4 separate regions of the Homo sapiens genome follow, and all the other regions are linked to region 1. The links come from fine-mapping of genetic effects on gene expression. A gene starts in region 1. Each other region holds a variant in brackets. All regions are shown on one strand. Distances are between the middles of the regions. Region 1 holds the start of LMCD1 (LIM and cysteine rich domains 1). Region 2 overlaps LMCD1 (LIM and cysteine rich domains 1). Region 3 overlaps SSUH2 (ssu-2 homolog). Region 4 overlaps LMCD1 (LIM and cysteine rich domains 1).

Region 1 (8,106 bases):
TGTTGGTAAGCTCTGAGCAAATTCCTAGCCTTGGAGCTGAGATGCTTAGATTAAAGCCTGAAGATAATCTGATGAAGCTCTTTCCTGCCTCCCACTACCACAGTGGCAGATACATTGGTGAAAGTCAACTGTCAGCCCCCAACTCCGCATAGTCAGACACACCTGCAGCTTAGGACAAAAATCTGCAATTCACAAAGTAATGGTTTCAGCATCTGTTTTTAGAAAGCATGTAAAAGGGACTTGGATAATTTCTGTTTTTAAAAAACAAGGCTCTATTATGGCAAAAAAGTTGCTTATACACCTATGGGCATGTCTCCAATGTCTTGGCTATTAAGGTCTTTAAGTGACAGTTTAATATGTTTTTAAGATTGAGAGAGCCAACGACAATTCACGAGGAGCTGTGTTTACATTGGATCAGCTCACCCGGGTGATGTGCCAGTAGTTTGGCACACTGCAGGAAGTGGAGGTGAAAGCAGGAAGGGCTGAGTACAGAGGGAAGGCCTAGCCTGAAGGACAGGAAAGCCAAGAGGGATGTGATGTAGAGAAGCATGGAGAGAGACATCCAGGTGGACCTGGCAATGGACTTAGAAGTACCATCATTTAATGCCCCTTGGGCATTGTGTTGAGGGGTGAGAATTTCTAATTGGATCCCTCTGGAGCCAGCCCACTGGTGACTGCACAGTCAACTATGAACAGGTTCCTAGCTCTCTTTCTTCTAATCCCTTCTAAATTCCTACAGATGGTTCCTTGACAGTCAAGGGGTCTGTATTCTTGCAGAGCCTAATAGGCTTCAGTACATTTTCTCTGCAACTTCTGATAAGGAGCTTGATCCCTCTGGGCCTCAGTTTCCTTATCTAAAAAGTAAGGCACTCCAAGTCCCCTTCGAGGCCTAACATTATATAACTCCAAAGTGAAATGCTCAATAACTGGCAATCCATGTTCAGAAGGAAAGACTGTTCCATGTAAGCAGATTTTGCACCCGTTGGGTGAGAATGAAGGCAACAGCATTTGGTCATTGTCTTAGCTTGTCAAAGCTGAGCAATGGCTTAGGTTCAGCTGAATGAAAGTTAGGTGCTCTTCAGATGGGGCAGTTATAAATAAAAGTGTCCTCATTCACCAGAAAATTCCTTTCCGCATCCATGCACCCACTGAAATGTACCGCCACCACCAAGGACTGCCATGGCTAACTCTGAGTGCCCATATGCTGAGCCTTTTATGTACATCATCTCACTTAATTATCACAGCCATCTTGGGAGGTAGATGCTGTTACTGTTTCTTCAACTTTCAAATGAGGTGAGGATACTGACTCAAAGTTAATTAGCTTGCCCAAGAGCACACAGCTAGTAAGTGGGGGAGCTGGGACTTAAACCAGATCTGAAGCCAAAGCCTGCACTAATAACTTGCATCCTTAATAAACAAGAACAAATCCATAGTCGAGATTGGTTTCACCCAGAAAAATGGCATTTGGCCTTCAAGGCCCTTTGTTACCAAGAAATGTTGGCGATTTCACCATTCTCAGGGAACTGTCTGTGCTAGGAAACCTTCTCTTTCCTAATAGAAAAAAAAAGATGGTTCAAGAGCAGCCGGTGGAAGCATTTTACTTAGAAAGAAAGAGAGAAGTTAGGGAACTTGTAAGCTCTGCCACGATGTATGTATGTGGCCCCCAGTGAGTCTCTTTCCCCAGCCTGTCTGGGGTTGGTTAGATGACCTTTAAGTCTACTCCAGTTTTTAGATTTTATGTTCTTTGCTGAAGATCTTTTTATGACTTTCCAGTTGGTGGGGATTCCCGCCCCAGCCCCCTCGGGGGTAGGGAAGCGGAAACAGCCTGTATGCCATTTTAAACCATTTCTCATTTTGTAAATAGGCCCCTTGTAGCTCTAAGAGTCTATGAAATTGTTTCAAAATGTCTAAGTGCGATTATGCATCCTGAAGCCAAATGTTATAAACCTCCCCCACATACTGTTGCAGATTTAAAAAATAAATATGCAGTAAAAGCTTTTCAGCGTGTTGCTGATATCACGTAGTACTTAATCACTTCTGTGACATTCAGTTCAGCAAGGGGAGCTTCTCGGCTCTCCTCCCTCCCCTCCACATTTTGAGTTGAAGGCATTGGTTAACCTACAAAATGGTGATCTTCCTCCTGATTGTCGCAGTCCCAAGAGATAAAAAAAATCTGCCCTTTCATCTCTACCCACCACATTCTTTCTCTAAGCCTGTAATTGGATCTAAATGGAAAACAAACCCTTTGCAGGCCAAGGAAGTTGGCACTAGGGGGTGACAAGAAGGAGAACATGTTCCACCTCTAATCAGGATAATCACACTCCCCTATGCAAAGGAAAATAAAAACAAGGCTTCCTCCAAGTGGCAACACAGGACTGTGGTGAGGAGGAGGAGTCTCCATATACCTCATCTCACCTCATACAGTAACTATCAACCAGCTTATATTAAAAATACTCAGAATCATTTCACTTTCCAGAGGACAATGGAACTCTGCCACCTTTAGCCGTGAACTATTCTGTGTCTGAACTTGGGGAGGCAGTTCAGACACACAAATATCAATGCTACAAGTTAAAAAATAATGCATAAAATGAAGCCTATGCAAACAGTGTGGTCTTAGCTGGACAGATATTCTCATGAGTCACCCACAGGTTTTTGAGTCCTGCTGTGTGGCATGGTGTGCTATGTTCAAACAGGGATGAACAAGACAGGTTTGCCCTCAAGGAGTCCAGAAAAATGTATAGAGAAATAAGAGCATTGCATGCATAACTCACTACTAGGTAGCAATTAATAGGTATCTTCTAAGAGTCTAAAATGTTATGGTAATTTCTGTAGGAGGGGAAATGACTTGATTCTGCAAATAGCTTGGCAAATGCAGTGAGGCATGATACATTCCAGACAAATGCCCAGATTCAATGTGACTTGGTACCCACATTTAGAAGGATCCACTGGACTCTGTGACAGGGTCTGGGCAGGTGGTCTACAGAAGAGCACAGCTACAAATTAGACAGTGCATGCTGTGCCTCTGAGTGGCTGTTTGTGTCTTTAGTTTGATTCTCACGTCTTTTGTTTTTCCCCCTCTCATTCTACCCTGCAGGTTAATGGCAGATATTTAAGGAAGACTTTGCCCTTCAAGACTAAACCCTGTGAAATCAGAGTTTAACAATGACTGCTTTGGGAAATTAACTCACAGTGTCAGTATCCCTGCTACCACTGCCATGAGGGAGGTTAGGCCTATCCTCCCCACATCAGAGACAAGGAAACTGAGGCTCAGAAAAGTGACCTGGTGAATCATGTGCAGTTAAAAAGTGGCAGGGACTGAGTCTGGATGCCTAGGGCTTGCCTTACAGTCAGCTGCCTGTTAGAACCAACTCTCTGTGACCCCGGGCCTCAGTTTCCCGATCTGTAAAGCCTAGGTTGTCTCTCTGTTCCCTTCCCGTTCACATGTTCTCTAAGTCTCCAGCCTGTGCCTTCTCCCAGCTGCATTCAGGTAGGCAACAAGTGGTATTGGAGCTATAGGCACAGCCGCAGGCTCCTGTGCAGGAGTTTACCCATGACCTTCTGGGCTCCGGGCCAGCCCTTCTTGTAAGGGAAACGTGCAGACCCTGGGGACAGAAATCAGTTCCCTTATGCTGGAACTGCTGCCACTGCCAACATCACCAACTAAAGAAACTGCGTGCGTGTGTGTGTGTGTGTGTGTGTGTGTGTGTGTGTGTGTATTGGGGGAAACACACAAAACACTGGGATAATAGCAAAAGGGAGACTGTGAGTAAATATTACATGCTCTCAACCCTTACTTCAGCCACCTGAGGACAGGGAGTGAGGAAGCTAGGGGTTTTTCCTTTACAGACCATAAGATTTCATATATATATATTATATATTATATATATTTTATATATAATATATATTATATATATTTTATATAATATATATTATATATTTTATATATAATATATATTATATATAATATATATTTTATATATTATATATAATATATATTATATATATTTTATATATATATTTTATATACATTTTATATATATTGTATATATATGTAAAACCTTAATTAAACTTTAACTAGCATCACCAAAGACATAAGACCCTTTGCAAATATTTTACACAACATTGGGTTTGGGGTGTGTGTGCCTGTTAGCTCAAACATGTATTCCCAACTATTTGTTTTCCATGCAGTTTTGGAATTTAAAGAGTTCCCTTCTCATTACCTTTTGGGAAGTTTCCGCGAACAGATGGGAAGGGGAACAAGAAAAAGTAAGAATCTGGGTAAATACAAACAGCTTTCCACTCACCTTTTTAACTCCTGGGTTGAGGTCCTTAGCCACCTTTGCCATCCTCTTCTGGGGTGGGGGAACAGCGCCTGGCTTCTCAGGCAGAGGCGCGAGGGCGCGCAGCGGGGACAGCGGCGGCTGAATGGCCAAGTTCGCGGGCCTGGGAGGGAGCTCTGTGCGCAGCCAGGCGCAGCTGGGCCGCTTTAATTGGAGAGCGGGACTCCCTCTAAAACCTCGCCAGCCACTCCGCGCCGGCGCTCGCGCGAGGCCAGCCAATCCCAGCGCGAGGCTGTCCCCCTCCCTCAGGGAGGTCTCTGCACTGTGGCAGCGAGCGGAGCTGAGCGCCGGCTGCCCTGACGTCAGCATGGCCGCGGCCCCTGACTACCCAGCTCCCTTCTATCCCTCGAGCGGCAGGAATCCGTCCCCACGCCCTTTTCCTTTAAAGGGCAACGGGCCGAAGGTGGGGCGGGCGGCGCGGCTCCCGCGATCCATTCAGGTCAAAAGGGAGAGTGATCAAACAGGAGAGCCGAGGTATTTTTAGTGAGCTGGATCCAGAAATAAATGCTGAGCTGTGCTCCCCTTCCCACCCTTTCTGCCTGGTCGTAGGGGGCGCGGGGAGGGCTGAGGGAGGAGGTGTTTTGCAGGAGCTGGCTAACGTTTCCCAAACCTGGGCGAGTTCTCCAATATCCAGAGAGGAGAAAAGATTCCAGCGAGTTATGATTTTTTTAAACTTAACGTTCGTAAAGTATTAAACTGCTTTCTTATAACTTGCTTTAACATAAATCCTTCTTATTCCATGAGCAAGAAATCACTGTCCTGATCTTAGAGATGCTCCTGTGGACATACTGTCTTGTTGTATGCTCATATTATCTCAGATATTATTATTATTATGACTGTAAGACGATAGATGAGGAAATAATCAGAATAACTGGTCCACAGCTGAATTACTGAGCAAGGCTTTAACCTGAGAGACTGAGAGTAATAGAGAGAAAGCTCATGGGGGCGTGGCGGGGGGGGGGAGGGAGGCGGCGGGCACAGGATTGTAAACTATAAACTAGGAAGTTAGTAATTTTTAGATAAATGGGGTCATGCAGGCCTGGACAAACAAGATTCCATCTGAGTTCACAAATCCATGGAATGTGGAGTCCTTGCAACGCATAACATAACTACTCTTATAAGACAGAATTGGCCAGGTTCCTCTCTCTATGCCACGTTGTTTGCCTATAAAGCCACATCTCTCTGCTGAGCCGGTTCCACAGACTTGGATTCCAGAGGCATTTCCCCCCTGCCCTGACAGAGGATTAAACACAAGCCCTTTTTATCCTAGAGAGAATACTGCTGTCTCTGTTGTGAGGTGTTCGGCCTGTAACCCGTCTTTGCAGTGCCCCCTGCCAGAAAAACCAGGGTCCCGTGGGCTAAAATAAAACTCGGTTGCACAGAGACTGAAGAGTGGTCCCGAAGTACACCATTCGGGAGGGATTTGGTGAGAAGGGGAGGCTGCAGTTCCCACTGTGGGGCTGTCTCTTGCTGGAGGCTTTTTCCTCTTGAAAGCCTCCTCCAATTTAGTTCTTATCATCATCTCCAGTCATCCCAAATCTCAGCCAGGGATCCTGAATTGTGACTTTTTATTACATATTCCTGGAAAGGGCTTTTTGTGGCTTATCTTTTCCAAGATGAGGGATGACCTATTTCTTTTTTCACAGATTTCTGCTATAATTGATTTTTGCCTTGTTTGCTCCCAGCTATGTCCTCAAACACCTAGCATGTGGTATAGGCACAGTACACATTTGGCAAATGAATAGAGGTTGGGTTCTGGCTTTTATTTTTTTTATTGATACATCATGATTGTACATGTGGTATTTTGATATATGCTTACAATGTGTAATGATCAAATCAGGGTGTTTAGGATTTCCATCACCTTGAACATTTATAATTTCTTTGTACTGGGAACATGTCAAATCACTTTTAGCTTTTCTTTTTTTTTTTTTTTTTTTTTTGAGACAGAGTCTCGCGCTGTTGCCCAGGCTGGAATGCAGTGGCGCGATCTCGGCTCACTGTGACCTCTGCCTCCCAGGTTCAAGTGAGTCTCCCACCTCGGCTTCCCAAGAAGCTGGGACTACAGGCATGAGCCACCATACCTGGCTCATTTTTGTATTTTTAGTAGAGACAGAGTTTCACCATATTGGCCAGGCTGGTCTTGAACTCCTGACCTCAAGTGATCCTCCTACCTTGGCATCCCAAAGTGCTGGAATTACAGGAGTGAGCCACCGCACCTAGCCTCTTTTAGCTATTTTGAAGTATACAATTCACTGTTGTTGACTATAGTCACCCTACTGTGCTGTTGAATGCTAGACTTTTTCTTGCTATCAGACAGTGTTTGTTCGCATTAACCAACCTCTGTTCATCCCCTCACACCCCAGCCCACCATTTCCCAACCTCTGGTAACCTTCTTCTACTCTCTACCTCCATGCAGTAAGCAGGCAAAGTAAGAATAGGGAGAGATGGTGCAATGGCACACCTGGCCTGGTTTGTCCAAACTTCCAAGGTAGGCTGCATGTTAAACCAGTATGTAAATAAACAGTGGCCAACAGAAGCCTGGCCTGGGAGAGGAGGTTTCCACATGAATAGTCCTTTCAGTAGCAAATCCTAGGAACAATAGTGCTAAATCAGGATGTCATGCCAGAAGCCTTTATATTTTAGAGCTGTGGGAACAGAAGCCAGGAATATAACAAAGGCAAGCTTTATCCCTTTCAAACGAGGCAAAAGCCTGCCCAGTGAAGTCATTTCCCACTCCCTTCCCAGCCACCCTCCTTGCCCCATCTTGAAAAATCATTGTTCCATGAAATAATACTAATTTTATTAAGTTAACACTATTTATTAATAGCTCCAACCACAAGAGTCTCTCCCCCTCCTTATTTTTACCCTTGGCTCCAGGTACAATTAAGGAGGCAGATATTGCAGCTGTTTCTCAGAATTTCTCAGAACACGAGTGTCAGGAGCTGTTGCTTGGGGTGGCTCATTCCCTTCTTTCTGGAAAAAGACCTGCTGTAGGCAGAGAGGGGATCCCTGCTATCTGCTAGAAGTTGCTGTCTCCTCAGCTGAGGATTCTGACTTTGACACTTTAAACCTTACACTTGACCCTCTTGTTCCAGGGGACCTATATTCAGAGACTTAACCGGACACCTGGACAGACCATTACAACTTGGGACTTTTCAGGAGAATGAGGGAAATGTAGTTATTGCACCTGAGCCTCACTCCAGCTCTGAGGTCCTCTTCACTTCTCTTTGGAAGAAAATTGGATATCTTTTCCTAGTTGAAAGAGTAGAGATCTGATTTCTCCAAGGATCATCGCTTTTTGACACGGGATTATTAGAAGCATTCATTCATCTATCAAGGAGTTTTGGGATACTTGCCATAAGCCAAGCCCTCTGATAGGTGCTGGAAACATCAAGGTAAATAAAAGAGTTCTTCTCCTTGGAGAACATATTGGTCTAATAACTACTTCTGGGGCTCCCTGGTTGACAGAGCCCTAATCTTACTTGAACTCCAAGACAACTAGTCTCAGAGAAAACAGAAATCCCAAACAGTCCCAGGGCTGTATCAAAGGTCATACAGCTGGCAAGTGGCAGAGCTGAAATTTAAATTCAGAGTTTTTAACTTCAGATTGCACCCTTTCACCTATACTGCACTGCTTCCATAATGATTGCAGATGGTTGATTATAAGCAAAACAGGAAGCACTTGGATTAAGATGCTGCTGTTGTTGTCATCATTATCACTGGGCTTGTCCTAACTGGGATTTTTGACTCTGAGTCTCGTATTCTT
Region 2 (8,106 bases), 27 kb before region 1:
CCACACTCCCCCAAGGACTTTTTTCGTTTCTGAATTGGACCAAGCAGGAGTGCCTTCCCTCTGCAGCCATCCTTCCCTGACAACGCATACAACCAAAGCAGTCTCAGCGAAGAAAGCAACCAGGGTTCCCCGAGAGGACAGCCAAGTAACAAAGGCAGACAGGGACCCTCCTGACAAAATCTGTTACCTCCATGAATGTGGCTCGAAGCCCGAACACGTCCCCTTGCATCCCAAACATGCCACACCTCTTGCTGACTGCAGCTGGCCCAGGGACATCTGGAAAAGGAACAGAAAAGAGGGTGTTTTCCTTCCAAACATCTTGGACCGGAGATGCTTGACCTCTAAAAGACTTGGCGTGCTGGCAAAGGGACTGTGTGGGGTTCAAAGGGCTTGAGATCAATAAGCCATCACAAACTGTTTACCGGGAACTGAGAAGACCAAACAGGAACATGGAATGGGGCCAGAGGGTAGGCAATTGTGGAAGGGTGGGGCTCTTCCCAATAAGAATGCAATGGGGGTTCTTTCCCAGCCTCCAGTGCTGTTTCAAAACAGCAAGACTGGTTGGAAACGCCCTGCTGTGAGTGACCATCTATCTATTCCATCCCCCACCCTCACCCACTCTCACTTGTCACTGGAATGGAATCTTCAGTGAGTGTCTCCTCTCCCTCATTTATTTGTGATTTATTGATAGAGTGTGATTAAACCAAAGCTACAGGCACAAACAAATGTGCATTTTGCCAAATGTTTATAGCTTGAAGCATAACTTAAATATTTTGCTAAAACACTGAAAAATCACATGAGCACTTAAAATCTCCTTTGGAAGGAGAACAATGCATGAGACAGGTTTTATTACTTGCTACCAGCCAAAGGTACCAAAAGTGCATTTGCTGCTGCTGCTGAGGTGTTTAAACCCAAATGGCATCTTCAAACCAGAAGCGTCACCTGGGGCTTGCCAGAAATACAGACCCTTAGACCCGACTCCAGCCTGTTTGAATCAGAATCTGTACTTTAACAAAATTCCCAGGAGATCTGCATTACATTAACATTGGAGAAGAAGTGGGTTAGTAATATGGATCTGCTGGCTGAGAAACTTACCCAACTCTCCATTGGGGTTGGGGTGGGGACGACTTGGTACAGGGATGTACTTTATTATGATTTCACCTGAAGCAGGGCTCAATCAACTAGTAATGTAAAGGGATAAGCTTCTTATCCAACAAACATACCATTTATTTAGCATCTACTATGTACCAGACACAGGAATACAACATAAGACTCAGGTGTGCCCTAGTGGAACTCACTGTTAGCTAGGGGGATATGGAGAGAAAAACACATTCATCTCCTGCTCCTGTAAGGGGCAAGTCTGAGGTAAAGGAAGCTGCATGTTGTGTAGTAAAAGAGGCACGAATTTTGGAGTCTGAGAGACTTGGATTCCAAATCGAGCTTTTCAGTAACTTATTGGCTGCCTAGCCTTGGACATACTGAGCCTCAGTTTCCTTATCTGCCAAGTGGATACCGAGATAATATAGTAACGTGCAGGACCACATTAGGCACTAGACATGGTAACTGCTCTTATTTTGCCACAGATTTTAGAAGCACAGGGGAAAGTGTTAATAAATTCATATGGGAAATATGAGTTTATTAGAGCAGACTACTTCTTCTTAGAGGAGGTGACTTTGGATTTGGGCTGTGCAAGATGGACAGGCAGAAAAGGGAAAGGAGATGCCTAGCAGAAGGAAGAAAATGTGCAAGGTAAAAAAGGTATGAAAGGCATGATGAGTAGGGTATGCAATGTGAGCATGTCCTTTGGATGCTACTAGTCTACTCTCTTTGCATTTAAGAGGGAAAATACAAGCAGTGAAACTTGTGAAGCCATCCTCATTGCCAGTGGTAGAATTCAGACGTATGGAAAGAGACAGCTGTCCTTCACAATACTTCTCTTCAGCACCAAATCTTCTCACAATAATGCCTCACTCCATGCCTTCTATTTGGTGACTGCTGTGTACACCATGTCCCCACACACTTTGTCATTTTGTTCAATACATATTTACAGCTTCAGGGAGTGAGAGTCATGTTGCACATATGTGGAGTGTGGAGGGAAGCAGGTTTATATTTAGGCCTATTCAATGCTAGATTCATGTGAAAAGTGAAAATTAAGACAACACCCACTGCTAACTCATTCTCCTAAGCTGGGAGCTTTCTTTCACAGGTAGGACTTTGCTCCCTAAAGCCACTGGCATATAACCTTGCTCATTTCCACCTCCCCTTGACACCTTCAGTTCTCCTAGTTGAAATGCAGTGATCCTTACACACTTAATATTGGAGTCACTCAAAGTTTATTTTGGGAGATATACAACTTGTGAATAAGGCTTCATTGTTGGACCATTTCAGATATACTCAGAAGGCTGGAAACCGGAGAGGTAGGTGGAAGCATTTCCAAGTGGCAAAGCACCCTGCACACTTCAGCTTTATTGTTCTTCTAATGAGAGGCTGATTTAACCCTCATTCTACAAGGGGATTAGTTCTGATGCTTGGCTTGGAGAGTGGAGCTGCAATCTGTCTGCAAACTCGGGGTTTGATTTAGAATAGTGATGTAGGTAGCACAGCAGAGCAGAGCAGAGCACTCGCCGGTGATGCGGGGGTCTGGCCTTTGGGTGCCAACTCTGGCATTTATTAGCTGTGTAACTGGAGATGAGTCATTTCCTTGCCCAGCCTAAAGCATCTCTTCTGAAAAATAAGGAACTGGCTTGCACTGGGGTTGCCCACATTCTGTTCTGCAGGATCCTCACTTGGTGAGATGTTACGAAGTGGTTCCTGGTTGGGAGTGGGACAGAGAATTACCTGATCAAATACAAATGGCAGGCACTGGATGTGTAGAGGCTCCCGAGCCTTTAACAGGCCAGCCTACGTTAGAAGCAAGAAGTGAGGTAGAGAGCAAGCAACTGTTTCGGGTTTGGAGACCCAGGCTTTAGTCCCGGGTTTTAGTCTCAGTTTTTCCCCTTTCCTCCACTGTACTTGGGCAAGTAGGCTTGTTGAGTTCCATGACCTGCGTCATGGGGATAACAAGAATGCAACTTGCCTTGCAGGGTTACCAGGAGGTTAAACGGGATGCTGCCTGAAAAGGGCTTGGCACACACTTATTATGCACTGAGCGTTCTTTGTTGTTGTCATTAATTACATCTTGTGAAGAAAAGTTTGAGAGACCCTGAATTAGATATTCTCAACACATTTTTTTCTAGCTTCAAAATGCTAGGGGACTTCAGAGGAACTATTTTTTCTAAATACACACCCCCTATACTTTCTTATTCTCTACTTTTTTGACTTGTAAAAAGAGTTGCCTCTCTGACTAGGTTTTCCTACAAAATGTAAAAACAAAATAAGCTCACACATGTCCCATACTTAATGATTAACTCATTAAGTGAGGCCATCCCTAGCCCTTTGCCCTCGCGGTGCTCTGCTACCAATCACCTGAAGAGAATCGACGTTAAAATCTCAACAAGCACAAAGAAAGCCCATGCAGTCAGGCAAGTGAAGACACAGGCGACTGGCCTAGTTGGGCAAGAACGCTAAACTAAATGGAGGTTCAGGAAG[C/T]GAGAGTTGGCCCTGGTCTCCATCTGCTAGTGGGACAGTTTCCATGGCAACAGAAGTATGTGGGAGAGAAAAATAAATGGCCTTGCAAGGAAGAAATTGATTCAGGTCATCAGGCCACACTTGCAGCTAGTTTCCTGGCTGACTGTTTAATGCAATAAATAGTCATTTGTCCACTGCATGCCATTCATCCAGAAGCCAGACAGACCCCGCTATCTTCAACACAGAGAGAACGATCTTGTTTACTGAGGAGGGGAAAACATCAGTCAGCCACAGTCCCAAGTGAGATACTCTGGTTTATAAACAGTAGGTTTTTCTGATGTGGGCTCTGTCTCTTGAAAGACGGCACAGTGTCTCACAGTAGCTGAGAATAGAAGAGTTTAAAAGAAACCATCACTTAAAAAAAGGTTTCTTGGAATGCAGCATCTAATCTGTCCTTTCTCCCGAGAACAGAAAGAAATGTTTTGACGATTTTCCTTGGCTTGGGTTAGTAGGATGTGGTTCATTTGATATTATCGTGAAACTGAATGGTGGCAGGGACTTAAAAGGACTTAGATTAGACCAGGAGACCCCTGGGGATGCAAGGAGCAGGGGCAACTCTGGGACTCCTCTCTCAAGCATTTGCCTTCAGGTGAATCCCAAGGGAAGTCTTAGAGGGAAAAAAAATGTCACCAAGAACAATGTAGGGTTGAGAGGAAGAGGAATGTAAAAGAGAAAATGCAACTGGGAATTTAGGGATGAGCATGGGATTTGGAATTAGAAAATGGGGGTTCTCCTTCCAGCTCAGCTTCTTCCTCATGGAGTAACTCAATTGCCTCCTCTGAAAAATGAATTATCCCTGCCCTTTCTTTGTCTCAATAGGGCTGTTGTAAGCATCACGTAACATTAAAAGGCAGTAAATTGAAATAAGTATTTGCCATTGTTAAAAAAATAATTAGATGTGGTGGCTCATTCCTGTAATCCCAGCACTCTGGGAGGCTGAGGCAGGGGGATTGCTTGAGGCCAGGAGCTCAAGACCAGCCTGTGCAACATAGTGAGACCCCAATCCCTACAGGAAAACAACAACAAAAAAAAACTAGGTGTGGTAGTATGTGCCTGTAGTTCCAGCTTACTTGAGAGGCTGAGGCTGGAGGATCACTTGAACTCAGCAGTTTAAGGCTGCAGTGAGCTATGACCACGCCACTGCACTCCATCCTGTCCCCCCGGCCCCCTAGAAAAGTACTTAAAACTCAGACATAAGGCAGAAAGGTGAGTGGCACATCCTTTCAATGTCATATGGAGGCAATATGGCACTGGCTCTCCTCATCCCCATAGGATTATCTAGAGAAATTTACTTTGCTCAGCTCCAAGTCTTTCTGAAGTAACACGTTAACTTGCAGATCTTGGTCCAATAGAGACACAAACAATTTCTGTCCTTTCAAAAAAGATAACCCCAAATGTTATGGTTTACTGTTCTGGAAGACATTAACTAGTTTTGTAACTAACCCATCAATCTTGTCCTAACATTAAATTACTTATAAATACCTAACTCCTCAAGCGCTTTTTAAACTGGCCTAAATATCATACGGGTTCCCTCATTAATGGGTAGAACACAATCTTTGTTAAGTTTCACTTCATATTTGCACAACAATTGTGATTCTATCTTTTTGAAAGTGGTATCTTAGTACTATCACACGCCCTAATGATTACTCACAGGTTTCCTTTCTGAGGTGGTGCGTTCCAAATTGACACAAAATTCTATTCAATGCAGACGTGTCTTTTACAGGTTAAGTTCTATAAGCATACATGTTATTAAAGATTATTGGTCAACATGACTTGTTATTTAAAACAAACCCTTCCCTAGGGGTTCTGGGAGAGAAGCTGGAGTGAGATGGGTTGAGTGGAATAAAATTATCAGAAGGTCCAGGAAAGGACTGGAATTGTATTTAAAAATATGACCCTGAAACTACCCTACTGCCATGAATTTTACTCAGTGATTTTACTTAGTAATTCTCTTATTTAATAATATGACTTCCCACTGAAGTATAATTATTATCATCATTATTCCCAGTCAAAAGATGATGAATGACCTTGAGTCTGAGAGTGGAGAAGCAACTTGCCCATCCAGATGGTCTCCATTGGAGCTCCTTTGAAGGCAGTGGTGGTGGGGTATCCTAAATCTACCTTTTCCTATACTGGCCTTTAATCAAAAGTGTTTTATCTTTCCCAGTGATCATGATCATAGTTAACATTTATTGAGTACTTCCTATGTGCCAGGCACATGCCAAACATTTTCATGATATTTCATCTAAACTTCTTGACAACCTTATGAGATAATTTCATTAGCCTCATTTTCAGATAAGGAAACTGAGGCTCAGAGAGGTTAAGCTCTTCTTCAAGATTCAACAGCTAGTAACCTGTCCAAATTTGTCTCTATTTCCATATTATTTACTGTTTCCACCCAGATTCTCTTTCCAACCACCTGAGCCTCTTGCAGAACTAAATCCACGCAAACTCTGGGATTTTGCTTATGCTCATCTAAACCTCAGAGAACTTAAAACCTGCCGACTCTTTAGGGACCATCTTTAGTCCCATCTTTTCCATAATCAAAAGTAACAATAGTAGCTGTAACAAGTACTAGGATTTGTGGTTTTCCAGGCACTGTGTGAAGGCTGACCTTGTACAAATCTTACAACAACTCTACAAGGGAGGTATGTTGCAGTGGTTCTCAAGGTGTGGTCTCTAAGCAGCAGCACAGCAGCAGCGAACTTGTGAGCACTGCAAATTCTCAAGCCTCACCCCAGACCTATGAAATCAAACATTCTGCAGGTGGGGCCCAGACATCGCTGTTCAAGACCTCCAGGTGATTTTGATAAACAATTAAAGTTTGAGACCACTGATACATTGTTAGTGCCTCTAGGTTGCATATGAGTTAACTGAAGGGTAACTAACTGTCCTGGTTTGCACTAGACTGTTTGGTGCCTAGGATGTAGAACTTTTTAGTATGAAAACCAGAAAAGCCTGGAAAAATCCAGTATCTCTAGTTAAGTGGGGTTCAAAGGGGTCAAATTAAAGTGCTAGAGCTTAGATTTGGACACAGGTATCTGAATTCCAGATCCACATTTTAATTTAACCAATGCACTACAGTTCCATGCCAAAGAGCCTCTTCCAGATATTTTGGGGCCCTCACACGTTTTTCTCAACTCACACAAATGTAAAATTACAAATGGAATCAGTGCTAGGAAGGAGAAACAGTGTGTCATGAGATTGTCCTTTAGCAGGGGATTTTGCCTGTTCTGGGTGTGTGAGGAGGGGAGTGCTCCTTAAATTAAGTAAACACTCTGATTAGCACAAAATCACCTGGGATCTAGCTCAAATGCACACTCTGGTTCAGCAAGTCTGGGCAAGCCTGACATATAGTTCTACCTACCTCCCAGGAGAAACCATTTCTGCTGTCCCAGGGACCACGCTTTGAGTATCGAGGGGCTACAACAGTGGTTCCCTAACTTGTCTGCAACATTAAACTCTCCTGGGGATCTTTTAATGCTTCCAAAACTTGGGCTGCATTCCAGGCAAATTTTGCCACAATCTCTGGGGGTTGATTACAGGCATCAGTATTTCTGAAAGTTCCCAGGGGATGCCAATGTTCAGACAAGTTTGGGAATCATTTGGTCTCACCATTGTAACTTCAACCGTTCCAACTTGGACTTTTAGGCTCTCAGCTCATTGTCTTAATAATCTCCCTTCCTGGACCTTTGTGCACTGTTGTGAGGAATGTAAATTGGTACAGCCATTATGGAAAACAGTATGAGGTTCCTCAAAAAATTAAAAGTAGAACTTCCATACAATCCAGAAATCCCACATCTGGATATACATCCAAAGGAAATGAAATCAGTATCTCAAAGAGATAACTGCCTTCCCAAGTTCACTGCAGCGCTATTCACAATAGCCAAGATATGGAAACAACCTAAGTGTCTGTCAACAAATAAATGGAAAAAGAAAATGTGGCACATACACCCACGTACACACACACAAACACACACACACACAATGGAATAATATTCAGCCTCAAAAAGGAATAAGAATAATGCCATTCATGACAACATGGATGAACTCAAGGACATTATGCTACGTGAAATAAGTCAGGCACAGAAAGACAAATAATGATCTCATTTATATGTGGAATCTAAAATAGTCAAACTCATAGAAACACAGAAGAGAACTGTGGTTGCCAGAGGCTGAGGATTAAGAGAAATGGGAGGATGTTGGTCAAAGGGTACAAAGTTTCAATTAGGCAGGATGAGTAAGTTCTGGAGATCTAATGTAAAGCATCATGACTATAGTTAACAATACTGTATTCTATACTTGAAATTTGCTAACAGGGTAGATCTTAAGTATTCTCACCATGTAAAAAAATTAGTTTGATTAGTACACAATGTATATGAATATCAAAACATCAATTTGGGCTAGGCTCGGTGGCCCACGTCTATAATCTCAGCACTTTGGCAGGCCAAGGAGGGTGACTTGCTTGAGCCCAGGAGT
Region 3 (8,106 bases), 130 kb before region 1:
TCAAGAAGGAAGATCTTGATATCAGGGAGATAAATTCCTCCATAAGGGAAATCTCAAAGCCATAGATTCCAGGGACCTCCATCTATCAAAGACAGCTACTGCTCTGAAGCTTGTCTCATAGAATCTTTGTATAAATTCATGGGGAACTGAATTAGCTCTAGTTTGAGCCTGTCAGGGGAGATTTCCTGGGGCTGGCTGACTTCCCTGCAGACATGGGGGCACGTGGAACAGAAATCGCTGTTGTCAGCCAGTTCCAGCAGCCGAGGGTGTTGTGCATGGACCTCTCAGTTTCCCCACTGAGCCCTGGGAGGGTAACAGCTTCATCTTTTTGCATAATGCTCTGTCTTCATAAGGGGCACGAGTGTGAACATGCTGTTTTTTTCCTTTTAGTACCGTCTGGAGACCTTTAGTGAATCCAGGATAAGCGAGTGGACATTTCAACCCTTTACTAGTAAGTGAATTGTCTGAAATTAGTTTAACTGGGGGCAAATAAGTCAGGGTGCTGGTGGAAAATATCAGGACTTGGCTCAGGCACTCATCTCAAATAAGATGGTCTTCTGCTTGGAGCCTTGGCTTCCTTACCCCCTGCAAAATGAGAGGATGGACTTTCATCTCAGAGACTTTCCAGTGCTTATCTTAGGAAATGCTTCCTGCCCAGGAAGCAGGAGGTCCTGAAAAAGCCAAGCATTTGCTTTTGCTACAGTCTGGTGCTGCCACACGGGGCCGGGCTGTAAAGCAGCATGCGTGTCTAAGCATTCACCTACACCCCCTCATGCCACCCCTAATTCCTCCTAAGCTTCTAGGCCCCTGTGCTCCCCATTCGCCTTGCCACCCCACCTTCTGCTGAGCCCCCACTGGAGGCCTAAGCTTCTCTCTTTGGGAAGATCTATGTCCTCCTTGTTTTCCCTAACAGACCGCTCAGGTCCATTCTTCAAGACTCAGCTCACGTGTCACTTCTTTTAAGAAGCTTTTCAGGATTTCTCCTCCTGCTGCTCCCCTCCCAGCAGGATGGGCCAGTCTTCTGAGTTTTCAGAGCCCTTTATGCAACTCTTGTCCAAAGCATGTATCATATCCTATCATATCTTATTGTGATGGTGTGCTGTCTGTCTCCTTGAACAGAGCAAGAGGAAGAAGATGGGATGGTGAAGGGGATGGTGATGATAATGGTGACAATTCTTGTGTGTCATCCCCTCAGTATGTGCCATTCCTGGTGCTAACAATTTTATATACATTCTTCCGTTTAATTTTCACTACCATCTTGTATGGTAGGTGCCATGACTATCCCCATTTTAGAGATGAGAGAATGGAAGCTCAGAGAGGGTAAGAAACTTCTCTAAAGTCAAACAGCTAGGACATAAAAGAGCCAGGAGTCAAACCCAGATCTGTCTCTCTCTAAATCTTGGTTGCTTAGTCACTGCCTCCAAGGAAGGCCTTGACTATCCATCCCTGTAGCCCCAGGATCTAGACTCATGCCTGGCACCAACTGAAGGCTTCATGCTGTTTGCTGGATAAATGAAAGTTTATCCCTGCTGCCCTTCGTCATTCTTACAATGACCCCTTTCTGTGTCAGACCACTCTGTGGATGGGCCGCAAAGAGGCGCCTCCCCCAGGCTCTGGGACATCAAGGTTCAAGGTCCTCCGATGTTTCAGGAAGACACCAGGAAGTTCCAGGTCCCTCACTCGTCACTGGTCAAGGTAATACGATTAACGCGATTACTGGAATACTTGCCCTTCTCCCTGAGAGGCTTTCCAGGCACTGCATGTTTCCTCAAACTCATCCTTTGAAGGGAAACCCAAAATTCAGGCCGGTGCTTCATTTGTTGGTTATAAATAAACGTAATTTAATAAAACCTGGTATATGGAATGTAGTCCCAAATAAAATTCCAAGCAAATCTGGGAGTGTTCACCTAGCAAACAGATCATCCGATTTACAAATCGTCACCAGCTTTAGTGAGCAGTGACATTCCTGGACAGGTTGAGTGTAGTTTTCATCTTTTTTAAAAATTTATTTTAGCTTAAACAGCTGAAGGGCTGAATGAAATTGATATAAAATAAAAACTTAAAACCCTGCTGGGATTTTGCATGAGAGTCAGTAAGGAAACAGAATCTGACTTCCATCCTGCTTTATGGACATATATTCGTGGCGTGAAGGGAGAGGAGCCTAGTGGATTACAAAAACACGACTGAGATAGCTCATATTGTGTTCTTTTCCGGTTACTGCCTGCTTTACACTTTTGGACTGGATTTAAGGGTGCAATTTTGCTCTATGAGTTTTTACAGAGTTCTAAGATAAAGAGTACTTTGAGAGGTCGAGAAAGTGTTCTATTCCTTTCTCAAGGGGGCCAAGGCTATTTTAAATTAGTGATTAAATACTAGTAGCTAGCTCATTGCCTTTCATAAAAATCCTGTCCATTTTTTAATGGCTTCTGTTCCCAAAGACCACATTAGCTACCTTATGGGCAAATGCCATCAGCCTTTGTAGTTCAGCCTGGTAGGAAACCGTAGAGTGTGAGCTAGGATATGGGGCTCCCAGAACACGTCTCCCCTTGATGGCATCCAGATTGGGCTAGGGCTCAGAGGAAATGGTGACATGATCTCCTGATGCAGTCAAGCCTTCTGGAATCTTAGTCAAATGGGAAGGGCCATTTCTTTCCTGTGCCATCTTCCTATCCTGGTCCTGATCCACTCCACCTTCGGTTTAGATGGTGATGTTATGGGTGTGGGAGAAGTGGCCCTTGGGAAACTAGATCCCAAGAAAGCGTTGCACTTTCAGGAATGCCACAAATGCCATGGGCGTGGGCGGTACAAGTGCAGCGGCTGCCACGGGGCGGGCACGGTGAGTCATCTGTGAACCACTGGTGAGTCAGTGAGGGTGTGGTGGCCGGGGGATCCTGGGGACAGCGGGCTGGGCTGGTGGCCTGAGGCTCCCTGCAGTAACTGTGTCATCTCAGCCAAGTCATCCTCCCTTTCTGGGCCTCCATTTTCCCGTCTATAAAATGAAAAAGTGGGGTTGTGTGGTCTCTAATGACACTTTCACTTTGACAGTTCGATTTTAATTTTTCTCTTATTTTCTCATCCATCTACCAACATACACTGAATACCTGCTTGGCTCTGACCTCTAGGTCCTGTAAGAGGGCCAAGACCTGGGGTTCTTCTTACCAGGCAGTCTTTGTCAGCCAGGGAAACCAACAAGCAACTCCATTTGTC[G/C]TGCAGGGCAGTGGGTGCTGAGCAGGTAAAGTTTGGAAGGCTTGGAGAGACAAAGTAGACAGTGACACTTGAGTTAGTTTCCTTCGGCTGCTGTAAGCCATGACCACCAATGGGTGGCTTAAAACAACAGACACAGCTGGGCGTGGTGGCTCACACTTGTAATCCCAGCACTTTGGGAGGCCAAGGCGGGCAGATCACGAGGTCAAGAGATCGAGACCATCTGGGCTAACACGGTGAAACCCCGTCTCTACTAAAAAAAAATACAAAAAATTAGCTGGGCATGGTGGCGGGCGCCTGTAGTCCCAGCTACTCAGGAGGCTGAGGCAGGAGACAGGCGTGAACCCAGGAGGCAGAGCTTGCAGTGAGCGGAGAACGTGCCACTGCACTCCCGCCTGGGCGACAGAGCAAGACTCCATCTCAAAAAAACAAAAAACAAACAACAGCAACAAACCAGACACCTATTATATCACGGTTCCGGAGGCCAGAATTCCAAAATCAAGGTGTGGGCTAGGCTGGTTCTTCTGGAGGCACTGAGAGGGAAGCCATCCCCTTCCTCTCCCCCAGCTTCTGGGAGCTGCGGGCCGTCCTTGGTGTTCCTTGGCTTGTGACTGTGCCACTTCAGTCCCCACCTGCCTTGTCACCCAGCCTTCTCCCTGCATGTCTTTTTGTCTTCACATGGGCTTCTAATAAGAACACGTCATCGGATTTAGGCCCTACCTTGTCATATGACCTCATCTTAACTAAATGCATTTGCAAAGACTATCTCTAAATGAGGTCCCACTCTGGGATTCCAGTAAACTTGAACTTGGAAGGGCCGCTATTCAACCCAGCACAGGCCCCTCAGTGGCATTACTCATGGCATTAGTTGTCTTTTCAGAAACCTTCATTCAGGCCTATTAACAATCCCAGGGGGTAAAACCAAACTTCTCGCGTTCTTTGGTGTCCTGATTCGAGCCTCATCCTTTGGCCATGCTCTGACCCTGGCTACCGTGAACTGTCTTCTCCACCAGCCCTTTCATCCCTCGCCTGCTGGGTTTGCATCCCCAGCTCACTCCTGCACTGCCTGTGGGTCCCAGCGGTGGTCTTCCCTGGAATGTTTCTGGAGCCCACCATGAGCCCAACTGGGAGCACAGCCTAGGCCTTTTCTGGGGGCCATTTCTCAAAAGGAGCCCCCTGTCTCCAGTGCCAGGCCCCTGACCAGCGCCTGTGTCCCAGCTTCCTCTCAACACTTGGTAGGGGTCAGGTCTCAGGGGTTGTGGGGATCAGAGAAGAGGCAGGAGAGGCTGATGTCTCAAAAGAAACAGGGATCTTAGGGAGTGGAGGCTTTGAAAGCTACAACTGGAAGGATCCAAAGATACCCCATCTCCACCCCGCACCATTTTACAGATGAAGGGGCTAAGGCCCAGGGGGAGGAAGGTCACCAGGCTGGGATTTGAACCAGGTCTTGGGATGCCGTTGGCCCTGCTTCCTGGGAGGCCAGCGGGGGCTGAGGCAGTGGTGTGTCTGCAGGTGCGGTGCCCATCCTGCTGCGGAGCCAAGCGCAAAGCCAAGCAGTCCCGGAGATGTCAGCTGTGCGCGGGGTCCGGCAGGCGAAGGTAGGGGCATCTCCCCAGCACCGCGGTGAAGTGCTCTTGCTTTCTGGCTTTTCATTGCCTGCCCATCTGGAAGGCAAACAGGAACCCATCTGTCTCGTCACTGCTGTGTCCCCAGAGCTCTGCACGTAGTAGGTGCTCTGTGGTTATTTGAAGAGTAGGTGAGCTTTTCTCAAGGCCTGGCATTTCTGGACAAGGCTGGAACTCGTCATGCAATATATGTGGAAAGAGTGTGAAGAAAGAGCCACTGCAGGGAGGAAACACAGGGACGGGGTTACCAGGAAAGGAGACCTCTCCCGCCCACGGGTTGGGAAGTGAATATCAAAAACCACCTAAAGGCCAGATTTTTAACTCACTGAGGATCAGTTCCTGGGCAAGCCCCTATTTATAACTCATTTTGGGGTCTGAATGGAGGAGGAGTCAAGGAAAGTTGGTTGATTGACTAAACAATAAACAAAATTTCATCACTGCTCACAGCTTTGCAAACACTGGGCCATTGCATTTTGTAAATCCTATCCTTTAGTGTATTTATAACTTTTTAAGGGAAACAGGAAACCGTGAGGAGTAAAAATACTCAAGGTTGGGTTGGTTAATGATACTTTTGCCTCATTAAAGCCCAGGCCATCCTTCTGACAAGCCAGTTGGAGAAGCTTTGGTGGCACCTTCCATCGTGGTTGGTAGAGACAGTCTCTGACTGGGAAAAAGACACTTATTTTTCTTTCATTTGCAAGTGAAAGGAATCCAATTCAAATTGGCTTTGGCAAAAAAAGTCGATTTACAGGCCTAGGTAAGAATGAAGTCCAGGGGTATATTTCAGGGATGGCTTCAGGCCCAGCTGGATCCGGGTGCTTAAACAACACCACCAGGAATCTGTATCCACCTCTCACTCTGCTTTCCTTTGTGTGGGCTTCATTTGCAGGCAGGGGGTTCCTTGTAGTGGCAGAGGAGATCACCAGTAGCTCCAAGCTTACTAATCCCAGGAGAAAAGATGTCCCTTTCCCGATAGTCCCGACAAACATCCTGGGACAGATCTCATTGCACTCGCCTGGGTCATGTGCCCATCTTTGTATCAGCCACTGAGACCAGGGACATGGAATAAGATGATTGGCCAGTCCCAGATCCCAAGCTGTTCACAGAATTTAGTGGTGGGGGAGGGGGGGGGGCAGGCCCTAGAGCCATGTGGGCTGGGTGGGGGAAGGGTGATCCCCATAGAGATATTGGGGCACTGCCAGCAGAAGGAGGACTAGGTGGTGGGCAGGTACAAACAATGCAGGCCCACCACAGTCTACCTCCAGGAGGAAGGGGGTGCAGGTGGGAGCCTCTGGAAGCCACCAGGACCTGCAACTGATCTGGGGGTACGGACTCTGTGCCTTTCTCAGATGCAGCACTTGCTCAGGGAGAGGGAACAAGACCTGCGCCACCTGCAAGGGGGAGAAGAAGCTGTTGCACTTCATCCAGCTTGTCATCATGTGGTATGTGGCAGTGTCTCAATGCTGTGGCATGCGGGGGTGGCTGAGGGACTTAGCCCTGGACTGGCTTCTGCAGAGAAACTGTGGTTGGTTGGGGCTTTCACAGTGCAAGAACCTGCCAGGACTTAGAAGGGGGAGAATTCCCTTGGAAGAGGCAGTGTGGGGTTGTGGGATGCTGACTGGCTTTAGAACAGACAGACCTCAGTCCAAATTCTGCCATCACCACTTTCTAGGGCAGCAGCCGCTCCACAACTGAGCCCTTCCCGTAGGAATAGAGCCATAGCATCCTGCTACGTCCCTAAGTCAGTCAGGGCTTCCGTGCATTAAAGGTTTCTCCTGTCTCAGGCACCTTGCTAAGTGCTTTGTAGGCAAAGATGAAATGAGGTAATGGAGCTGAACTGTCACTCTCCTTACTAGCTTCATTTTACAGGTGAGGAGACTGAGGCTCAGAGAGGCTACAGAACTGTTGCAAGGTCCCTCCAGTAGCAATTCAAGCCCTCAACCCCAGGTCTGTCTGATTGCAAAGGCCATGCTTTTAACCTGCCACACTGTGTGCTTTCATCCCTCATCCTCCTTCCCTCCAGGAAGAACAGCTTGTTTGAGTTTGTGTCTGAGCACCGGCTCAACTGCCCCAGGGAGCTCCTTGCTAAAGCCAAAGGAGAAAACCTCTTTAAGGATGAAAACTCGGTGGTAAGAGGGCATTGTAGATGGGAACAAAGGAAGCTGGGTTCCTCCTCTGCTCTCGTGGGCCTGGGGCTGCTAGCTGTGTGTGCAGGCTGCATTCCTTGGAAGGACAGGTTGTGTAGGAGCAGAGCTCCCCAGACATGGATAAGGCTGTGGGGAGCCTGGGGGCTGTCAGTTTCCTTTTGACTTTTACACACTCAGCCCTCTGTCCTTCCCCACCCACCATGCCGTTCTTCCTTCCTAATACTCTCTTTCTCTCTTTCCCTCCCTCCCTTCTTCCTCGCTCTTTTCCTTCCTTCCTCATCCCCTCCTTCCCTTTCTTCCTCATCCCCTCCTTCCTTCCACAAATCTTGAGACCCTCCTCCTATATCAGGCACTATTCTTGGCCCTGGGTAGACCATGGCAAATAAAACAAGGACCCTGCCCTCATAGAGCTTACAGTCTGGTGAGGGGACTATGATGGACCCTTTTATAGCAATGTCAGATGGTGAAGGGGCACTGAGAAACATTCAAGCAGGGTAAGGGGCAGGGAGGGGTGGCAGTGTCGTTCCAGCTGGAGGTGGGAAAGCCTCTTTGTGGAAGTGACCTTGGGCACAGACCTGGATGCAGGGCAATTGGGGAGTGGACCTTGTGGCGTGGGAGCGAGGGGACAGTGGGGCAGAGGCCTTGAGGACTGGCAGAGGGCAGTGAGCAGGGCAGAGCTAGGAGCTCAGAAGTGAGAGGTACCTTCAGCCAGAGGAGAGGGTCCTGCGGGCCAGGAGTTGGCACACCCAGCCCACTGCCTGCCTTTGTCGATAAAGCTTTATTGGAACACAGCCCCACGCATTTTCTGACAGGTTGTCTATGGCCGCTTTCCTGATGGTGGGACAGAGCTGGATAATGACAGACTACATAGTCTGAAAGCCTGAAGTATTTACTATTTGGTTCTTAGCAGAAAAGGTTTTCTCACTCTGCCGTTGGCCTTGGCAGAGAGATTGGCTTCAATGGGACTTCTGATGGGGGTCCTCAAACTATAGGGAGGTGTGTCAGCCTCCTTTCTTTGCTCCAGTAATTTGGCTTTTTAAAGGCTCACCTCAGGCATCCCCCCACCAGAAGCCCTGCACCCCACTCTTCCATTTGAGTTAGGGATTTCCCCCTGGGCTCAGCTCAGACTG
Region 4 (8,106 bases), 60 kb before region 1:
GCAAATTACTGACCCACCGTAAGCCCTTAATAAATGATAGAGAATTGTTATTGTGCATATACTGTTGTCACTTCAAAAATGAGGCTCCAGGGCAGGCCTGTGACAGTCCTTTTCCTTCTTAATATCACTTAATAACAGAGTTATTAGGTAAGAGGACTACAGGGTCTTAACTTCATATGGTGACCAATTCGTAGAAGGTGGTAGAAAATAGATGTTGGTTCAATATAAAGAAGACATTTCTAACCTTCATACATGCCAAAGATGAAGTTAGTATATTGCCTGCAACCAAAGGCATGCAAATAGTACATACTATGATCATAATTAGTATTGCCATTATTAATACACCTTAGAGTTACTTTCATCAAACCAGTATCAGAGACTTGAATCTCTTTCATAGCATCTCTATCATATTGTATTGTATTGTGTCATATTAATGTTAAGTCTCATATTATAGTATATTATCGTAAGACTAACAGCAGCTACCATTTATAAGTTCCTAGGTCAGGCCCTGTGGCAAGCATTTTCATGCATTATCTCATCTATCCTCATAGCCACTCTATGGGATGGGCGCTGGTCTCATCCCTATTTTATAAGTAGTAAAACTGAGACTCAGCTGAGGCTCCGGAGTTAGGTAACCACATGATAATAATAATAAGAGATGCAGATACAGGTTTGAACGTGGGCAATGCCTCCTGGTTCATCCTGCTATGTTCTGAGTACTTACTAAGTGCTAGGCATTATGCCAAGGACAAGATTCACCGGCACTGTGTCTGACCCCTCCCAACAATCCCATGGTTGTCTGCCTCATTTTGCAGATGAGAAAATGAAGGTTGAGAGCATGCAGTGAGGCCTGACTTCAGTTTCCCAATCTGTAGAACACATCATCCACAAAGCCATGCTCCTCTTGGCCTCTGGGCTTTTACCCTCAGCAGTGTCCCTCAAGCCCCCTAACCCATCTCGCGGCTATCTCCCACCTCATCGCAGCCGGAGCACCGGGGCCGCAGACTCTCGCAGTAATGGCGGCCGCACCAGGGTGCACCATCCTTCCAGAAGTAGATGAGGTCCACCAGCGGCTCGGAGCACTTGGCACACACAAAGCAGGTGGGGTGCCACTGCTTGTTGTAGCCTGCCCTGTCCGAGTAGACCACGGGGCTGTCAGGAGGGGCCGCTCCCTTGCAGAGCTCGCAGACCTGGAAGGATGGGGAAGGACCATAGGAGACAAGGAAGTCAGGAGAGCACAGTGACATGGGTTCGAATTCCAGCTCCAGCCTTTCTACTTCCTGGGTGACCTTGGGCAAGTCACTATACCTCTTCGTGCCTCAGTTTTGTCATCTGCAAAGCGACACAATAATATTGCCTACCTAACAGGCTATTCACGAGGACTAAATAAAGTTATTTATTTAGCACAGTGATTCCCAAATTGTTTGGTCTCAGTACCCTTTATACTCTTAAAAATTATCAAGACCCCTACAGAGTTTTTGTTCATGTGGGTAATAGCTATTGATATTTACCATAAGAGAAATTAAAACTGAGAACAATTTAAATTTTTTTAATTCATTTAAAAATGACAATACTAAACCTGTAATACATTAACATACCTATCTTGTTACTAAAATAACTATATGTTTCAAAACAAAAAAAGTAGAAGAAAATTTTAAGACATTGTTTTATATATCTGCAAATCTCTTCAATGACTTGCAGAAGATTGCTGGATTCCCATAACTGCTTCTGCAGCCCATCTTTTGCATGCTGTTGTTTTGGTTGAAATACATGAAGAAAATCTGAACTCACACTGACATAAAGTTGGAAAAAGGAGGACGATGCATTTTAAAGGACCTTCCAGGCAACTGTGGATATTCTTCTTTGATACTACAGTAAAATTTGACACAGGATACTTTCTCAAGTTAGTTGCAGTGTGAAATCTGAAAGCACATCAGTGAACCTTTCATATTTGTTTACATTAAAACCTGTTTGTTTACCTTGCACTTTGAATGGATCTTTTTACCCGTGCATGAAGAGTTTTAAATAATATTTAATAAATAATATTTTTGCCTAGAAGTGGTGCCTTATGCCTTTAATTCTAGCACGTTGGGAACTGGAGGTAGGAGGATCATTTGAGGCCAGGAGTTTGAGACCAGCCTGGGCAACATAGCAAGACCCCATCTCTACAAAAAAATTGAAAAATTAGCCAGTTGTGATGGTGCTCATCTGTAGTCCTAGCTACTCAGAAGACTGAGGTGGGAGGACTGCTGGAGCCCAGGAGTTTGAGTTTGAGGCTGCAGTGAGCTATGATCGTGCCACTGCATTCCAGCCTAGGTGACAGAGTGAGACCTTGTCTCAAATAATAATAATAATAATATTTGAGTAGTTCTAGAGTTACAGAAAAATTGCAAAAACAGCACAGAGAATTTCTATATATTCCACACTCAGTTTCTTGAGTTATTAGCATCTTACATTAATAAGGTATATTTGTCATAATTAATTAACCAATATTGATATGCTATTATTAACTAAAGTCCAAACTTTATTCACGTGTTCATAAACTTTACCCAATGTCCTTTTTCTATTCCAGGATCCCAGATTCACTTAACTGTCATGTCTCCTGAGGCTCCTCCTAGCTGGGACAGTTTCTCAGACTTTGTTTTTGGCCACCATGACAGTTTTGAGGAGTACTGGTCAGGTGTTTTGTAGAATGTCCCTCAGTTGGGATTTGCCTGATGTTACTATGATGAGTACGTTGGGAGGAAGATCACGGGGCAAACTGCTCCTCTTATCACATCCTTCAAGGGTACATACTGTCGCCCTCACTTGTCACTGTTGCGGTTGACTTTGACCTTCTGGTGGAGGCAGTGTTTGTCAGATTCTTCACTGTAAAGTGACTCTTCTCCCCACTTCCATACTATCCTCTTTGGAAGGAAGTCACCAAGCCCTCCATGTCTAAAGAGTGCTCCATCTCCTCCAGGGCCAAGTATCTACATAAGTTATTTGGAACCCATGCATGATTTTGGCAGATCCCCCAAAAGGACTCCATGTATGTTAGCTAACATTATTTTTTAAATACCTATGGAATTATCTAATTTATATCTGTTCTCTCCACTAAGCGGCTAGCTGCAGAGGGCAGAGAGAGGCTGCTTGGTTGCAGCTCTGACCCAGGACCCTCTACTGGGCCCCGCACACATAAATTCCCCATCAATAGTTGCTGAATGAAGGAATGCTCCACCCTGCCATGAGGCCTTTGCCGTTGCTGTTCAGGATGTCTGGTACATTGTTCCCGTTCCTGTTTGCCTGATTAACTCCCTTTCATTCTTCAGATGTGAGACTTAAAGATCTTTGGTTCTGGGAAATCTTCTCTGACCTCCTTCCAGGGGCAATTAAGTCCATAATAAAGCTTCTCTGCTTACCTTTCTCTGTATGGTTGTTTGATACCTGTTCTTTCTACACTAGATGGAAGCAGGAGCCACATCCAACTATGCTTGCTTTCACATCTCCTCGGTGCCAGGCACATAGTAGATGAACAATAAATATTTGGAAACCTCTGCCCTCCCACCTCATACTTCCTACTTAGGGGACAACAGATGAGTGTGGAAGACACTAGCAGATGATGCATCTGTCTGCACCTTAGAGACAGGTTTAGACTAAGTGCAGCAGAGAGCTGGGCTCCAGAGACAGTTGTGGAAAGTTCTTGGGAGCTTTCAAAACACTCTTGCCTTTCAGGGGCTCATCCATGTTTACTGAGCATCTACTGTGTGCTAGGCCCTGGACTAGATGCTGGGGATACAGCAGTGACCCAGGCAGATAATGCCAGAGCCTTCAGGGAAACTGGAGCTTTGTGTGTGTGGAGGCAGAAAATAAATATATAAAAAAACAGATGAGATAATCATGGAGTGTGATAAATACTAGGAAAACAATCACAGGGTAAGGGAATGGAGAGTGACTTTGGGGGTGGATAGCAGGGACCACCTTAGCAGGAGAGGCCTCTCTGAGGGATGAGGGGCTCTAGGGATCAACCACATTCCTATTTATCTCACAGCAATCCTCTGGATAGGAGATGTAGGTACACAGGAAATGCACTCATTTTATAGATAAGACCAGCGAGGCCCAAGGAGACAAAATAGCTTGTGAAGGGGGGCACAGCCAAGAAACAGAGCTGGGATTCAAACTGCCGCCCTTGGCTCTGTGGCTTTCTATGGGAACTGAGCTGGGTCGGGTGGGGAGACTAAACTCAGGGAATTGTCTGAAGGGCTAGGAGGGCTCCCAGGAGAATGCATTCTGGCATGGCAAAGGAGCAGCATGCCCAATGGCTAGAGGTGAGAAGCAGCTTCCCTACAGGGCCTCTCAGCAGTTAATGTAGCCAGTGCCTGGCTGTTTGTCATCCTCTTTCCATCTGGGGCTCCTTTATCTGTCTTTTACTGCCAGTAACATTTTCACTGGCCTGCTCAGAAACCATGACAAGGTGGACCTCAACTCATGTTGTTCCTCAGCTTCAGTTAGGATTGGGGCTTTGTGGGGAGGGTGAGTGTGCCTGGGAGAAGTTCTCTGTGAGAGCTCTAGATTTCTGTCTTCTGCCAGTTCCCAGGAGCAGTGAAAGTTGCTAAATGCTCATTCATTCACTGGTTCATTCAGGTATCCATCCATCGCACATTTATAACTTGCCTATTCTCATCCTCTAAAGAATGGGAACTTGACATTCTCAATCCACACAATCTTTTGAGTCATTTTGGAGTTATCCCCTGCTCCTGTAAGCCCCGATGATGATGGAAACGACAATGGCTGTCATGTCCCTACAGCGTGTCTGCATCCAGCACTGTGCTCAGGACTTTGCTCGCATTACTATTACCCCTTACATAAGCCCGAGAGAGTTATTTCTCCTTCTAGAGTTATTTTTCTATTCGGAAAATCATTATCTTCTCTCTTAGAAATTACAAAACTGAAGGTCAGGGAGATTCAGTGATTTGCTCAGTAATGCACAGCTGATGGGAGGCAAAGCTAGGATTTGAACAAAGGCCAAACCTGACTCCAAAGCCAAAGTTCTTTCTACTCCATCATGTGGACTTGAGATCCGGC[A/G]TCAGTAAGCTACGGCCCATGGCCAAACCCAGCCACTGTCTGTTCTCGCAAGCCCCATGAGAATGAAGACTGGATTTTACATTTGCCCTCCAATTCAGTGAAATGTTTTCTCCCAAGAAAGAACCCCTTCTGCTTTTCTCATTAGTAGACCTATATTGGAAAAAAAAAAAAAAAAACTCTGTGCTCAATTATTATTATCTTTTGAATTTCATTTAAAAAACCCATGGAAAGTTGTTTTCTCTCTTGTTACATAAAGTGCCCACATGATATTGCAATTTTGGCTCTTGGCTCACATCTCCTAAAATATTTATCACCTGGCCCTCCAAAGAAAGTGTTTGCTGAGCCTGGCTTTAGATGCTAATTTAAACTTAGTAAGTATCAACTATGTTTCAGCCAAAATAGAAATATTTACTTTTTTGCCATGTGAAGACAGGGAAGCACATAAGAGTTTGCACACTTACTATTCTTAACTTATATACTTTGATTACATACTTAATATACTCATATATTGAAGAGGAAATAAACATTAAAATGGTGAAAATTAGGAAAAGAACACTGAATAACAAGGAACGTCATGTACTGATAGCAGTTTCTGAGCGTAGGAGCTCTTGAATGACTGCCTATATAAGGAATGTGTTTGGTCAACTAGATATATCTTGAACTGGATCCTGACTGTGCCTGATAATGTTCCTTAGAACATGCTAGATTTGTGGTTTCAGTTACACCCCCAAGAATGAGTGGTGTGAGTTTTTCGCTCAAATGAAAACCCTGTTCCTCTTCACATGATTGAGACTCAGCTGGCTTGGAGCCCATCAGGGGGTCTAGACAAAAAATCAGTGACCAGTCATCATCTACTTATTTTCACCCTCCCTCCTGCATAGCTGGGAACTGTAAACTCTTTGGCCAGGGCTGTCTGAATACAAAGTGAGTTGTCTGTCTGGCTTCTTATTTCTACAGAATGAAATTTCCAGCTCTTTCCCTCCCACACAAAAGGGACTTCGTGTCAGTTCACCAAACTACACCCCATTGGGTAACACCATGATATATCAATGGGGCTCCCCACTCCACATTTACAAATGTGAATTGACATGAAAGTAGGGAAAGGGAGAGGGATAGAAATGCACCTGGATTGGTCTGGGGAGCACCGGCAGGCACCCTGATGATACACTGAAGGAAGGAGGGGGATATCAGGTCCAAAAGGCAGTTTAGGGTGATCATGGGTGGCTTTGAACCCAGGTTATGGGTTGGGACTTCACTCTGGAGGCAATGGGTAGCCACGACTGGTTCTTTTTAAGACATTTTAAAAATATTTAAATTTTTTGTAGAGATGGGGTCCCACTATGTTACGCAGACTGGTCTTGAACTCCGGAGCTCAAAGGATCCTCCCGCCTTGGCCTCCTAAAGTGCTGGGATTATAGGCATGAGCCACTGCACCTAACCCGTTACTGGTTCTTGAGATGAGGAGTTCAAGGTTCTAATTTGCACTGTAGGGAGATATTCTCGCAGCAGTATGAAGGAAGGAAGGAAAATTCTTGTTCACAGAGCTTGTTTGCAACCTTCTCATCCGTTGGAAAGCACTTTGTGAAGCCCCTCTTGGAGGAGCATTTCTTCCCTCACTGTTCTCCCTAGCATCCCTGGCTCTTGGACTGGTTTCTACCAGTAGCCAGCCCCTTTAAGCAAACAGTATCATTATCACTCCATGAAAACAAGATGTCCAGGTAAGGAGCCCTCTCAACATGTGTCAGGATGAAATGTGCTCTTCTTGCCTCTAAGCCATTTTCTGTATCCTTAACTCAGTCATCTCAAAGGATGAGAGACCTGAGGTTGTCCTGGATCTATCGTCTGGTGGTCCCTCAGCCACGAGAGACAAGCTAGCAGCCGAGAGTCAGAATGCCAGCCTACTTGGGTCTCATCATCCTGGCCCTTTCTCAGCACAAACTTAGTCTCTCCCACAATTCTTTGTAGCGAGGTTTGCAATTTCTAAATTGCAACAGGTGGCTGAGAGGGGAGATACCAAGTCAGACTGCCTGGGTTCATAGCTGTGTGACCTTGGGCAAATGAACTAACTTACCTGTGCCTCTGTTTTTTCACCTGTTGAATGGCGATAGTAATGATAGCAACCTCATAGGATTGTGGTGTGAGTTAAATGACATAATGGAATTTTTGGACTTTATAAGGGCTCAATAATGATTTGCTAAAATCTCGTGTATTCCTTAACTCTGCCCACCTTGCAGGCTAGAAATGTAAAGCCCAGAGGGATTAAACCACTTTCCTAAAATGACAAAGATATGTTGAAGGCAGGTTTGGAGGCCTGGATTTCCTTCCATGATACCAAGGGCATGTAGACTAGCAGGAAGTCATTCCTGCCACTGATGAGCTCTATTTTTTCCCCTATCAGTTCTCTCCATTTGTGCAAGGCCAGAGAATCGAGTCGTGTGAGTTTTTCATCATTTGCCACTGCTCCAGACTCAGCTCCACTCATCCCCTGCTTGGAGGGCCTGCTCCTCCCCATATCTGATCCTGCCCCTGGAGACAGTGGTTCTCAGGGTTGAGCCTGCCTCAGTATCCCCTAGAGGGCTGGTTAAAACATATCTCTGCTCCCCCACCGCCACCACCTCCCCACAGTGTCTGATACAGTAGATCTGGGGTGGGGCACAAGAATTTGCAAGTTCCTAGGGGATGCTGGTGTGGTTGGGGCCACACTTTGAGAACCGCTGTTATAGACTGTTTAAAAATAACTTTATACATAAGCTCAGCAAAACTGATATCACCAATTCAGTTCAGTTACAACAAAGGCTCATTTGAATTCCTGGGATGTTTAAACTCAACACTATTTTTTAAGAAAGACCAATGAGGCCATTCTCAGGTTACTTCCCCTATTAAGGAGCTAGTATGGTCAAATGGAAGTTCTTTGGGACTATGGTAAAAGGCATGGAGAAGAATGCTTTATAATTAGCATATCAGTTGTTTCTTGTTCATGTTCCCAAATATCTAAGATTGGAGCTTGCTCGTGAGAACGTTTCCAACATTTGTCATGTGACC

What was found.
Region 2: its variant is fine-mapped to the expression of LMCD1 in whole blood (TOPMed, PIP 0.93).
Region 3: its variant is fine-mapped to the expression of LMCD1 in whole blood (TOPMed, PIP 0.90).
Region 4: its variant is fine-mapped to the expression of LMCD1 in atrial appendage (GTEx, PIP above 0.99).

Annotation. Positions count from the first base shown.
Region 1 is chr3:8,498,179-8,506,284 of GRCh38, reverse strand. LMCD1 (LIM and cysteine rich domains 1) reads right to left here and starts at 4,462. Exons shown (of 6, transcript NM_014583.4): 1 at 4,305-4,462. The coding sequence starts at 4,346. It overlaps LMCD1-AS1 (LMCD1 antisense RNA 1), which reads left to right and starts at 4,627. Exons shown (of 4, transcript NR_033378.1): 1 at 4,627-4,814; 2 at 7,436-7,735. RefSeq lists enhancers at 5,941-6,874, 6,875-7,808.
Region 2 is chr3:8,524,907-8,533,012 of GRCh38, reverse strand. LMCD1 (LIM and cysteine rich domains 1) reads right to left here. Exons shown (of 6, transcript NM_014583.4): 2 at 188-276. Among named protein-coding and RNA genes, the nearest start is that of LMCD1, 27 kb to the right of the region's middle. The variant C/T (reference allele first, on the strand shown) is at 3,589.
Region 3 is chr3:8,624,394-8,632,499 of GRCh38, reverse strand. SSUH2 (ssu-2 homolog) reads left to right here. Exons shown (of 12, transcript NM_001256748.3): 5 at 391-451; 6 at 1,571-1,695; 7 at 2,774-2,836; 8 at 4,717-4,802; 9 at 6,179-6,271; 10 at 6,853-6,958. Among named protein-coding and RNA genes, the nearest start is that of SSUH2, 16 kb to the left of the region's middle. RefSeq lists an enhancer at 2,888-2,977. The variant G/C (reference allele first, on the strand shown) is at 3,208.
Region 4 is chr3:8,558,516-8,566,621 of GRCh38, reverse strand. LMCD1 (LIM and cysteine rich domains 1) reads right to left here. Exons shown (of 6, transcript NM_014583.4): 5 at 975-1,190. Among named protein-coding and RNA genes, the nearest start is that of LINC00312, 9.2 kb to the left of the region's middle. The variant A/G (reference allele first, on the strand shown) is at 5,065.